Linked DNA regions of Homo sapiens: region 2 is linked to region 1. The links come from fine-mapping of genetic effects on gene expression. A gene starts in region 1. The other region holds a variant in brackets. All regions are shown on one strand. Distances are between the middles of the regions.

What was found. PIP is the estimated chance that this variant, and not a neighbour inherited with it, causes the effect.
Region 2: its variant is the best candidate, but not a certain one, in a credible set for the expression of TNFRSF14-AS1 in whole blood (INTERVAL, PIP 0.67).

Annotation. Positions count from the first base shown.
Region 1 is chr1:2,553,970-2,559,328 of GRCh38, forward strand. TNFRSF14-AS1 (TNFRSF14 antisense RNA 1) reads right to left here and starts at 3,042. Exons shown (of 7, transcript NR_037844.2): 1 at 3,008-3,042; 2 at 755-2,727; 3 at 132-327. It overlaps TNFRSF14 (TNF receptor superfamily member 14), which reads left to right and starts at 2,402. Exons shown (of 8, transcript NM_003820.4): 1 at 2,402-2,764; 2 at 3,757-3,865; 3 at 4,374-4,499. The coding sequence starts at 2,696.
Region 2 is chr1:2,794,263-2,799,621 of GRCh38, forward strand. All of the region lies in intron 2 of TTC34 (tetratricopeptide repeat domain 34), which reads right to left. Among named protein-coding and RNA genes, the nearest start is that of TTC34, 4.8 kb to the right of the region's middle. The variant T/C (reference allele first, on the strand shown) is at 3,330.

The DNA.
Region 1 (5,359 bases):
ATCCTTCACCAGATCGTGACCAGGATGGCAATGACCAGGCCTCGGCCTCAGCCCCCTGCCTGGCCTGCACTGGCACAGCATTGGGTCTGGGGAGTCCCCGCGACAGGAGGCGTGGGGCTCGGGGTGCTCACCTGCCTCCCTCTCCCTGCTGGTAATGGTGGGCCCCGGGATGGGGGCAGTGATATCCTGCGGGCAGCCGTGTCAATGCAGATGGCTGGGTGCTGGGTAGGGCCCCGTCTCCCGCCTCCTTGGGCTGCCTCATTTCCTTCCTGATGACCCTGGGGTCCTGCACAGGGCCTGGCGGTGCTGGTGCCGGGAGAGCCCACGCTGAATGGATGAAGGAGTGAGTGCTGTACTTAGCGGGGGGCGCTGAGCGCTGGGTGGGGAGCCCAGGACATTTCCTCCTGCTGCCCGGGAGGTAACACCCTGGACCCCTGGAGTCTGCATTCTGTGAGAGCGGGCAGGCCACAGAGAAGGGAGAAAAGGGACGGAGGGCCGAGGCGGGCGGATACGGGGAGCAGGGAGCGGGGACAGGGCTTACTCAGCAATCAGAGAAGGCCTCAAGGAAGAGGTGACATTTCAGCAAAGACCTGGCACTGTCTGTGCCCTCGGTGGGGCAGATGGGCTCCCTTCAGCCCCCTTGAGGCCTGGCACCTGGGGCCCTATGTCAGGCTTGGGGCCTTGGTGTGGGAGCTGAAGTCGGGGTAGGAGGGGCATGGAGGAAGGGGCAGGAGGGGCTGAGTCTCACTGATGCCTGTGTTAGTCTTGTCTCTTGCCATGCCTCAGTTTCCCTCCTCCCCAGGGTGGGGTGGATGAGACGACTCTGGAGGACGTATCTGAGAGAGTGGGGTTGGAGCCCCGTACCGGCAGGTGTAGGCGCTGTGTCTGCTCTTGGAGGTTGGGCGTTCTTGGGGAGTTGGTGAGGGAACGTGCTGTCCCTGCACCCTGGAGCCCCCATGCCCTCCTGGGGCCCCCGGGAGTGGAGGATGCAAGGGGCCCCCTTCTTCTTCCTTGCAAGACCCACATGGCTCTGCATGTGGGGGACATTCCTGGCAGGGGGCGCTGAGGGCCAGGATGTGAGTGCACCAGGGAAACAGCAGATGGGGCTCCTCTCCCAGGCTCCAGCTGTGGGGTGGGAGTCCATGCTCCTGCGTGTCTCTTGGGGGCTTTTCCTCCACTGGGTGCCACCTGGTCCCCCACCCTGCCTCAGAGTATTGGGGTCTGGGCTCGTCCACCCTGGATGCTGGCCAGGAGTGCACCTGCCTCTGGAGCTCGGGACGCTTGGCCCCACAGGACGGTGTCGCACACCACAGCCGGCCTAACTTCACCCCTGCCTGCTCCCTCTCCAGGGCCGGCCTGCAGGGCTGCACACTTTCTAGTTGGGGTGCAGGTCCCCGGGCTCCTGCCACAGATTCCTGTGGCTGGCCACCCTGCCAACTCTCCTGCAGGTGAGGGTGGGCGCAATCCCCAAGGTCCTTTCCACCAGATGCCACTGAGTCCCCCAGGGGCCAGGGCTGGACCCTGGAGGGGGTCACCTGGCTGAAGTCAGGACCAGGAGGGGCAGGGGGCAGTCGAGGGGCAGGGGGCGGTCCTGGGCCAGGCGTCTGGCAGATGGGCTTGCTGGAGGTGGGGGTTCCTGGTGTGCAGCAGGCGGTGCCAGAGGGGGTGACTGGGACCTGCTCTGGGCAAGCACAGGCGGTGCGTGACAGACCTGGGCTTCCATTGACTGCATCACGTCCAGCAGCAGGAAGGGGCCACGGGGGCACTGGCGTCGTCACGTGGGTCACGAGGTTCCATGTGATGCAGGGAGCGAGGCCGTCACGAGGGACTCACTGGTGCCTGCCTTGGGGCTCCGGGACTGTGGGCTGTCTCCATCCGGAGGTCTCCCTACCACCAGGCTCTGTGGGGCAGGGAAGCCCAGTGGGGTGCAGGGAGCCAGGAAGCTGGGGTGGGGTCAGGGCAGGGTCCACAGGGAGACCGGGCGAGGCTGGCAGCCTTCCCAGTCCGCGCAGCGTCTCTGCAGGGGGAGCAAGAGCTGCCCTTCCACCCCTCCCAGGGGACGGGTAGGGGCACTCTGGGCTTTTCCCACCCCCTCACGCAGGGACACAGGCCTGGTGGGTCTATGACTGAAATTGGCCAGACCGCATTCTGGTGGTTTTATTCGGAAGGGAAGTTTACCCTGTTCAGCAGAAGCTGAGATGGGAACAGGAAACCCACAGGGCCCCTTTATTCGGCAAAAATGTCAGTCAGCGCCCCGGGGAGCAGCCGAGGGTCCCTGAGTGTGTGAGTGAGGTGGGGAAACACAGATGGACTTTGGGGGGCTCCCCCTTCTACAGGAAACCCGGAGTGGACTGGAATGGTGCAGGGGGAGAACTCGCCCCTCCCATCGGGCGCCTCCTTCATACCGGCCCTTCCCCTCGGCTTTGCCTGGACAGCTCCTGCCTCCCGCAGGGCCCACCTGTGTCCCCCAGCGCCGCTCCACCCAGCAGGCCTGAGCCCCTCTCTGCTGCCAGACACCCCCTGCTGCCCACTCTCCTGCTGCTCGGGTTCTGAGGCACAGCTTGTCACACCGAGGCGGATTCTCTTTCTCTTTCTCTTTCTCTTCTGGCCCACAGCCGCAGCAATGGCGCTGAGTTCCTCTGCTGGAGTTCATCCTGCTAGCTGGGTTCCCGAGCTGCCGGTCTGAGCCTGAGGCATGGAGCCTCCTGGAGACTGGGGGCCTCCTCCCTGGAGATCCACCCCCAAAACCGACGTCTTGAGGCTGGTGAGCCCCCGAGCCTCCTCTCCGTCTGCTCGCAGATCCCAGTTCTGACCCCAGGGCCTCCCACAGATCTCTTCCCCATGCCCCTGTCCTGGCCGTTGCTGGCTCCGGCGTCCAGCCCGTCCCCTGCTGCCTGGGGCTCTCGGGTCAACCCAGACCCCCAGCACTGGGCTCACCACAGTGGGGTGAGCAGCAGAGCCACAGCCCTACCCAGCAGACCTCCTCCTGCGTGTGTCCCCCACTCACCACTCCGTCCACGGGCAGCTGGTGAGCCCCCATTTGGCCGGATGTGGGCACTTCTGGGGGCTGGGTGTCTCTGGGCGTCTCTGGGCGGGGCCCTCGAGCAGGTGACCCAACTCCCCGGCAGCCCTGACCTTGGTGACAGGTGATAAGATCAGTGTGCAGCAGGGGGCTGGACCCAGGTGGGTGGGGTGGGGATACTCTCCATGCTCATGTGGCACTCCTGCCTGTCCAGCCACTATCCCCATCAGGGGCCCCCGACTGCCCATCAGCCAGCCCAGGAACGAGGCCACGGCAGAGCCACCCTCCCCGATGTGGCCCTGATCAGCCTGTCACCCACTGTCTGGCTTGTGAGCCTCTGGGGCCCATCCCTGGCTGCCCCTGCTGGCTCTTCAGGGGTCAGCAGGTCCAACCTAGGCCAGCAGGGGGGCCGGCAGGTTGTCTGCCCAGTGGGCTCAATGCTCCCAGGTGTGGGGTGTGGGGTCCCTGGCGAGGGCAGAGTTCCAGTTCCCAGGGCTCCGCGCTGCCAGGCAGCGTCATCAGGGCTGGAGGAGGGGCGGTCCCCACCCTATCCCGGGCTCCAGCGGTCGGCAAGGTTGTTCCATGAGCCTGGCCTGGGGCCCGCTTCTGTCCTCTCTACCAGGCACTGCCGCTCCTCCCCATTGCACAGAGGGAGATTCAGGCTGTGGGGCCAAGCCTGGCAGAGCCCACAGGGCAGCCAGGGCATCTCCCAATGCCTGTCCTGACCCCCTTAGGTGCTGTATCTCACCTTCCTGGGAGCCCCCTGCTACGCCCCAGCTCTGCCGTCCTGCAAGGAGGACGAGTACCCAGTGGGCTCCGAGTGCTGCCCCAAGTGCAGTCCAGGTAGGTGCAGCCCTTTGGCGGGCCAGCTCTGTGGGCCGAGGGCAGACACTCTTGCCCCCTTCTGCCCCAGACACCCCTGTGTTCTCTGCCCCCACAGCCATGGGTGTGATGAAGCCCTGGGGCTAGGTGTGCAGACAGTGAGGGCAGAACCCCCAGGCCAGCAGCTTGGACTCTTCACCCTGGGGGACCCTCACAGTCACACTGCACAGGGGGTGGGTCTGAGAGACGTGGCTGGCCCACCGTGGCCAGAGACATGGGCTCGGGGGCACATACCAGAGCCGGGCCAGGTGTCCCAGGAGGCCCCATGTGCTTCCAGAACTTTCCGATTTTCCCCAGAGCAGCTCTGCTCATGGCTGATGGGGCTGCTGTGTCCCGTGGGGCTCATGGGCCATTTGAGTCCCCTTAGCTGGTGTCTCCCTGCTTGGGCTCTGGGCGCGGGTGGAGTGATGGGTGGGCTCCCGAAGGGGCCTCCCGCAGACTTGCGAAGTTCCCACTCTCTGGGCGGCAGGTTATCGTGTGAAGGAGGCCTGCGGGGAGCTGACGGGCACAGTGTGTGAACCCTGCCCTCCAGGCACCTACATTGCCCACCTCAATGGCCTAAGCAAGTGTCTGCAGTGCCAAATGTGTGACCCAGGTAAGAGGCCAGCACAGCCGGCCCAGCCTCCGCTTGGGCAGCCTGGATGCCCCCGCACCCTGCACCCTCTCTCCATGGCCACAGTGCCCCAGGAAGGCCCCGGCTGCCCCAGGCCAGGTCCCAACCCCATCTCCATGGATGCACCCTGCAGGGGACGCCTTGAGGTCAGCCTCCGGCCCCCGTCCACCTCTGTCTCACCTCTCACTTTGTCACCGCCAGGTGGGCCATCCTGAGCTTGGCGACTGACCCTTATCCCTCGTCCTTGGCTCCTCTGGTGCCCGGGGTGGGTGCCCAGACCTCTCCTGTGCCCACGTCCCTAGCTGCAAAGTGGAATGGGATGGTGCTGGGACTCTCCGGCCGGCACTCGGGCCTGCTGCTTCCCCACAGGGCTTCTTGTCCCTTTCTCCTCCAGATATTGGTTCCCCCTGTGACCTCAGGGGAAGAGGTCACCTGGAGGCTGGTGCCCACCTGAGTCCAGGCAGACAGAAAGGGGAACCAGACCCAGAGGTGGCCTTTGAGTCACTGAGCGCAGAGCCTGTCCATGCGGCCAACGGCTCTGTCCCCTTGGAGCCTCATGCCAGGCTCAGCATGGCCAGTGCTCCCTGCGGCCAGGCAGGACTGCACCTGCGGGACAGGGCTGACGGCACACCTGGGGGCAGGGCCTGAGCCTACAGGGAGGCACAGGGCAGGTGGGCTAGCCATGAACAGAAGAGGAAGCTGGAGTGCTTTGGGGGTTCATGCATGTAGGCTGGGATTTGGGGCTCACACCTCAACCTGCATGCCCAGTTCCATGCCCCTCCCCTCTTGTGAAAGCACCTGTCTACTTGGGCTGAGGATGTGGGGGCACAGGTGGCAGGTGA
Region 2 (5,359 bases), 240 kb after region 1:
TCCAAAAGTGCTGGGATTACAGGCATGAGCCACTGAGGCATGGCTATAGGTATTCTTTATTATCTTTCAATAAAGTTTTATACTTTTTCCATAAAGTCATGTGACTCTTAGAACTTAATCATTTTCTGTCCCTGTGGTAAATGGGACACAGGGCATCTATTTGTTGCTGGTATTTATAAATATAAATAATGTTTTGCATATTTTGTTAAATTTTGCTACAATGTCTAATACCTTTTTGTTGCTTCTTTTGGAATTTCTATATACATAGCTAATCATATTGCCTGGAATAATTATAACTTTGTGACTTCCTTTCTGGTCTTACATGTTCTGTCTTGTTTTCTTACCTTATTGCATTGGCTAGGATCTCTAGCACAATGATGAGTAACTGGGAGAGTGCACAGCCTCCTCGTAATTGATTTTAAATGGAAGGCTTCTGAATTGTCACCATTGAGTATGATATTTATGGTGGGTTTGGGATAGATATTATCTTTTTCAATTAAGTAAGTTTTCTTCTGTTTCTTGATTGTTAAAATTCTGGGAATGTGAAATATTATAAAACAGTTTTTCTGAATCTACTGCAATGATAATATGTTCTTTATTCCATTAATTATTAATGTAGTGAATTATATAATTCTGGAAACATAAAATTTTAAGTTCTATATTATAATATTTGACGAAATGTTGGCTAAAATGCATCAAAACTGATGTTTTGACCTGGTCAGCAGTTATTTCAGCTAACTATTCCTGCATAACCATCCACTGTAAAACTTAGTGGCTTAAAACAACAATCAAGCCTGGGCAACGTGGTGAGACCCCATCTCTACAAAAAAAAAAAAAAATTAGCCAGTTGTGATGGTGTGTACCTATAGTCCCAGCTACTTGGGAGGCTGAGGCAGGAGGACTGCTTGAGCCTGGGAGATTGAGTGCAGTGAGCCATGATCACACAACTGCACTCCAGCCTGGGAGACAGAGCAAGACCCTGTCTCAAAAAGGAAAATCCAACCATTTATATTTGCCCATAATTATTCCTCAGTTTGGGCTGGCCTAAGCTGGACAGTTCTTCTGTTGGTCTTACCAGGGGTCACTCAGGTGGCTGCAGCCATCCAGTGGCTTTACCGGACAAGAGACTCTAAGGTGGCCTCACTCATGTGTCCGGGGCCTTGGTGATGGCTGTCAGCTGAGCCTCTGTCTGTGTGTTCTCTCACTGGTCATGATTCCAGCTTCCTTACATGGCCCTGGGAGAATTCCAAGGTGAAGGTGGAAGCCGTGGGGCCTCTGAGGCTTGGGCTCCTGAAGCACAAGCCATCACTTCTACCATATTCTACTGGTCCCAGCAAGGCACAAGGCCATGCCAGATTCTGTACGGAGAACAGACCCTGCATCTTGCTGGGAGGAAAGCAGGAATCACAGCTATGCTTTGTCACCTTTCCTAGCGCTCTTAATGAAGAACCTTAAACAAATTGGAAGTGGTCATCCCAGTCCTTTGGTAAGACAAACACGTAGGGAGCCATGGTACCTGGATGCTTACTTAGCAGCTACCTTGAGGGAAAGTGGTATTTATTCTGTATCTTGTCCTCATACATCGTGTATCGCTGCATGTCTACTTACTAAAGAGGGCAAAGAAAGTTCCCAGATTATAGAAGGGTTTTGCTACAGTTTGAATGTTTGTTCCCTCCAAAACTCATGCTGAAACTTAACTGCCATTGTAATGGTATTGACAGGTCAGATCTTTGAAGATGATTAGGCCATGAGGGCTCTGCTCTTGTGGGTGGGATTAATGCAAGTTCAGCCCCTTTCGCCTCTTTGCTCTTCTGTCTTGTGCCAAGTGAGGATGCAGCATTCAAGGCGCCATCTTGGAATCCGAATCCCCAAGCCTGTTGGGGCCTTGGTTTTGGGCTTCCAGCGTCCAGAACTGGAGCTCATTCATTTCTACTCATTATGGATCACCCAGCCCGTGGCATTCTGTCACAGCAGCACAAATGGAGCGACTGGTTTGTGCAATGTTTCCAAGGACTTTGGAAAGTAACCTCCAGATGGAAGGTCATTTGTTGCAGGAAACTGCATCTGTAAAAAGTCTGTTATAGGAAAATTCATTTCTTCTCTTCTCATCGTAAGCCATGCTTGTGCTGGTGCTGGCGATGTGGGGAGTCCCTTGACCGAAGTGACTTGGGTCTAATGGATGCACAATTCTTAGGGCAGGTGTTCCCTGTACACACCAGAGCCACGGCAGACACAGACGAGCTTCCGGTGGCCTTCCTGGAGGAGCTGGGTCTTCCCTCACATTCCCCAAGCCTGCAACACTTGGGGGGTTCTGGATTTCTGCAGAGAGCTTTAGTGTGACCCCCACCCACACCCTTAAGTCATGCCCTGCCCCTGCGTGATCATTAAAGTGGAAGGCCCCCTCCCTCCTGGAGCCCCCTTGCTGTGGGCATGGTCCTCACCAGCCCCTGAGTGCCTGTGCTCTGGGCACCCGGGGTCCCCTCCTTCCTCAGAAGCTCACGATTCGGTGTGACTTTGTTGATCATTTTCTGGTAATGCTCAACATATTTGAGCATATTTCCAGAAACAAATTTTCCTGCTCACTTTGCAGCTCTCTCTAACTGGTTCCTGCCCCACCCTCTCGTTGGGGTCACCAAGAACCTCGGCACCACACGCCCAACGCACACTCCTTGTCCTCTCCTTACGGACATTGTGGCCACTCTCAGGGCTGCCTACCTGTCTTTATCTTGCAAACCCCCTTCTCTTCTGGCCCTGATCCGTCACCCCACGGGCTCCGAATTTTCTTCCTTCTTCCTGTCCTCCTGGGCTGCTCCTCCCCAGAAGCACAGTATGGAGGGCGGTTAGGAGCACCCCAGGGGCCAGGTCCTAGCTGCCTGCACTCCGTATGCCCTTGGCAGCCCCGTGTCTCATGGGGATGGTGGCTGCTCTGCAGATTCCATGATTATGCACATCAAACCCATCAAATGGGGCCCACCCACTAGCTGTTCAGTAAACGGCAGCTAATACTGCCATCCTCACCTCCAGATGTCTGCTGGCCTGGGATGGGGGCTGGGGCACGAGGAAAGGGCAGGGAGCCGCAGTGCCTTGCAGGACACTCACGCCAGGGAGGTCCTGTCTGCTCCAGGATGCCTCGTGGCCCCACTTCCTGCCTCTGTCGGGAGCCTTGACTTTCAACCTCTCATTTGCACTGACCCTAAACCCCCCTTTTTCAAACTGAGCTCCTCTCACCTCAGGGCTCACCTGTCTGGCTGCCTAATGACATGAGGCTTGATGGGCTCAAAGGACTGTGTGTAAAGCACTCAGTAGGTGACATTATTCTAAGGGTTTGC[T/C]GTGCATGTTTACTGAATCCACACAGCAGCCTTTGGGGTGGAGACGCAGCCTCGTCTCAGGCACTCAGGGATCCGAGGGTGGCAGAGTGCTGGCAGTAGGCTGGGCTGTGGCCCTGGGTGCTCCTCCAGAAGGAAGAGGCAGTGAAGGGACCGGGCAGGAGCAGTGTCTCAAACTGGGGGCGTCTAAACCTCTGACACCCCTTTTCCCATCCGCGCTTCCCTCCACAGTTCAGTTGCTCATCATGAACTCAGAAAACGTTCCTGACCCTCCTTCTCTGTGCCTGTCTCTCCACCATTAAATCTACCCACAATCTCGTCACTTCTAACTCTCAGACATGTGGTTTCTCTGCAACCCTTTCTCCCTGATCTGAATTCCATCAACTCTCTCCTGAACCATTGTCCCAGCCTCCCAGTCTCTCAGCTGCCCAGCATCCAAGCCTCCCAGTCTCTCAGCCTCCCAGCCTCCCAGCCTCTCAGCCTCTTAGCCCCTCAGCTCCCCAGCCTCCAAGCCTCTGAGCCCCTCAGCTCCCCAGCCCCCCAGCCTCCCAGCCTCTCAGCCTCTTAGCCCCTCAGCTCCCCAGTACCCCCAGCCTCCCAGCCTCTCAGCCCCTCAGCTCCCCAGCCCCCCAGCCTCCCAGCCTCCCAGCCTCTCAGCCCCTCAGCTCCCCGGCCCCCCAGCCTCCCAGCCTCCTAGCCTCTCAGCCCCTCAGCTCCCCAGCCCCCCAGCCTCCCAGCCTCTCAGCCTCTTAGCCCCTTAGCTCCCCAGCCCCCCAGCCTCCCAGCCTCCCAGCCTCTCAGCCCCTCAGCTCCCCAGCCTCCTAGCCTCCCAGCCTCTCAGCCTCTCATCCCCTCAGCTCCCCAGCCCCCCAGCCTCCCAGCCTCTCAGCCTCTTAGCCCCTTAGCTCCCCAGCCTCTCAGCCTCCAAACCTCCCAACCTCTCAGCCTCTTAGCCCCTCAGCTCCCCAGCCTCCCAGCCTCCCAGCCCCTCAGCTCCCCAGCCCCCCAGCCTCCCAGCCTCTCAGCCTCTTAGCCCCTCAGCTCCCCAGCCACCCAGCCTCCCAGGCTCCCAGCCTCCCAGCCTCTCAGCCCCTCAGCTCCCCAGCCCCCCAGCGTCCCAGCCTCTCAGCCTCTCAGCCCCTCAGCCCCCCAGCCTCCCAGCCTCCCAGCCTCTCAGCCTCCAAGCCTCCCAGCCCCCCAGCCTCCCAGCCTCTCAGCCTTCAAGCCTCCCAGCCCACCAGCCTCCCAGCCTCTCAGCCTCCAAGCCTCCCAGCCTCTCAGCCTCCAAGCCTCCCAGCCCCCCAGCCTCCCAGCCTCTCAGCCTCCAAGCCTCGCAGCCCCCCAGCCTCCCAGCCTCTCAGCCTCCAAGCCTGCCAGCCTCCCAGCCTCTCAGCCTCCAAGCCTCCCAGCCTCCCAGCCTCTCAGCCTCCAAGCCTCCCAGCCCCCTAGCCTCCCAGCCTCCCAGCCTCTCAGCCTCCAAGCCTCCCAGCCCCCTAGCCTCCCAGACTTCCAGCCTCTCAGCCTCCCGGCCTCCCGGCCTCCCAGCCTCCCAGCCTCCTAGCCTCCCGGCCCCCCAGCCTCCCAGCCTCCCAGCAGGTCTTGTCCTTACTCTGGTTCCTCTGGCACATTTTGCACATGGCAGCCAGAGGAAAGTTTAAAAATGCAGATCAGGCGCCGGGCGCGGTGGTTCACTCCTGTAATCCCAGCACTTTGGGAGGCTGAGGCAGGTGGATCACTTGAGGTTAGGAATTTGAGACCAGCCTGGCCAACATGATGAAACTCCATCTCTACTAAAAATACAAAAATTAGCCAGGCATGATGGTGGGTGCCTGTAATCCCAGTTACTCGGGAGGCTGAAGCAAGAGAATCTCTTGAACCCAGTGGGTGGAGGTTGCGGTGAGCCGAGATCGCCCCATTGCACTCCAGCCTGGGCAACAAGAATGAAACTCCATCTCAAAAAAAAAAATGCAGCTCAGAGTACCTCACTCCACAGCTCAGCCTCACAGACTGAGGGTAACATCCAAGGGCCTTGG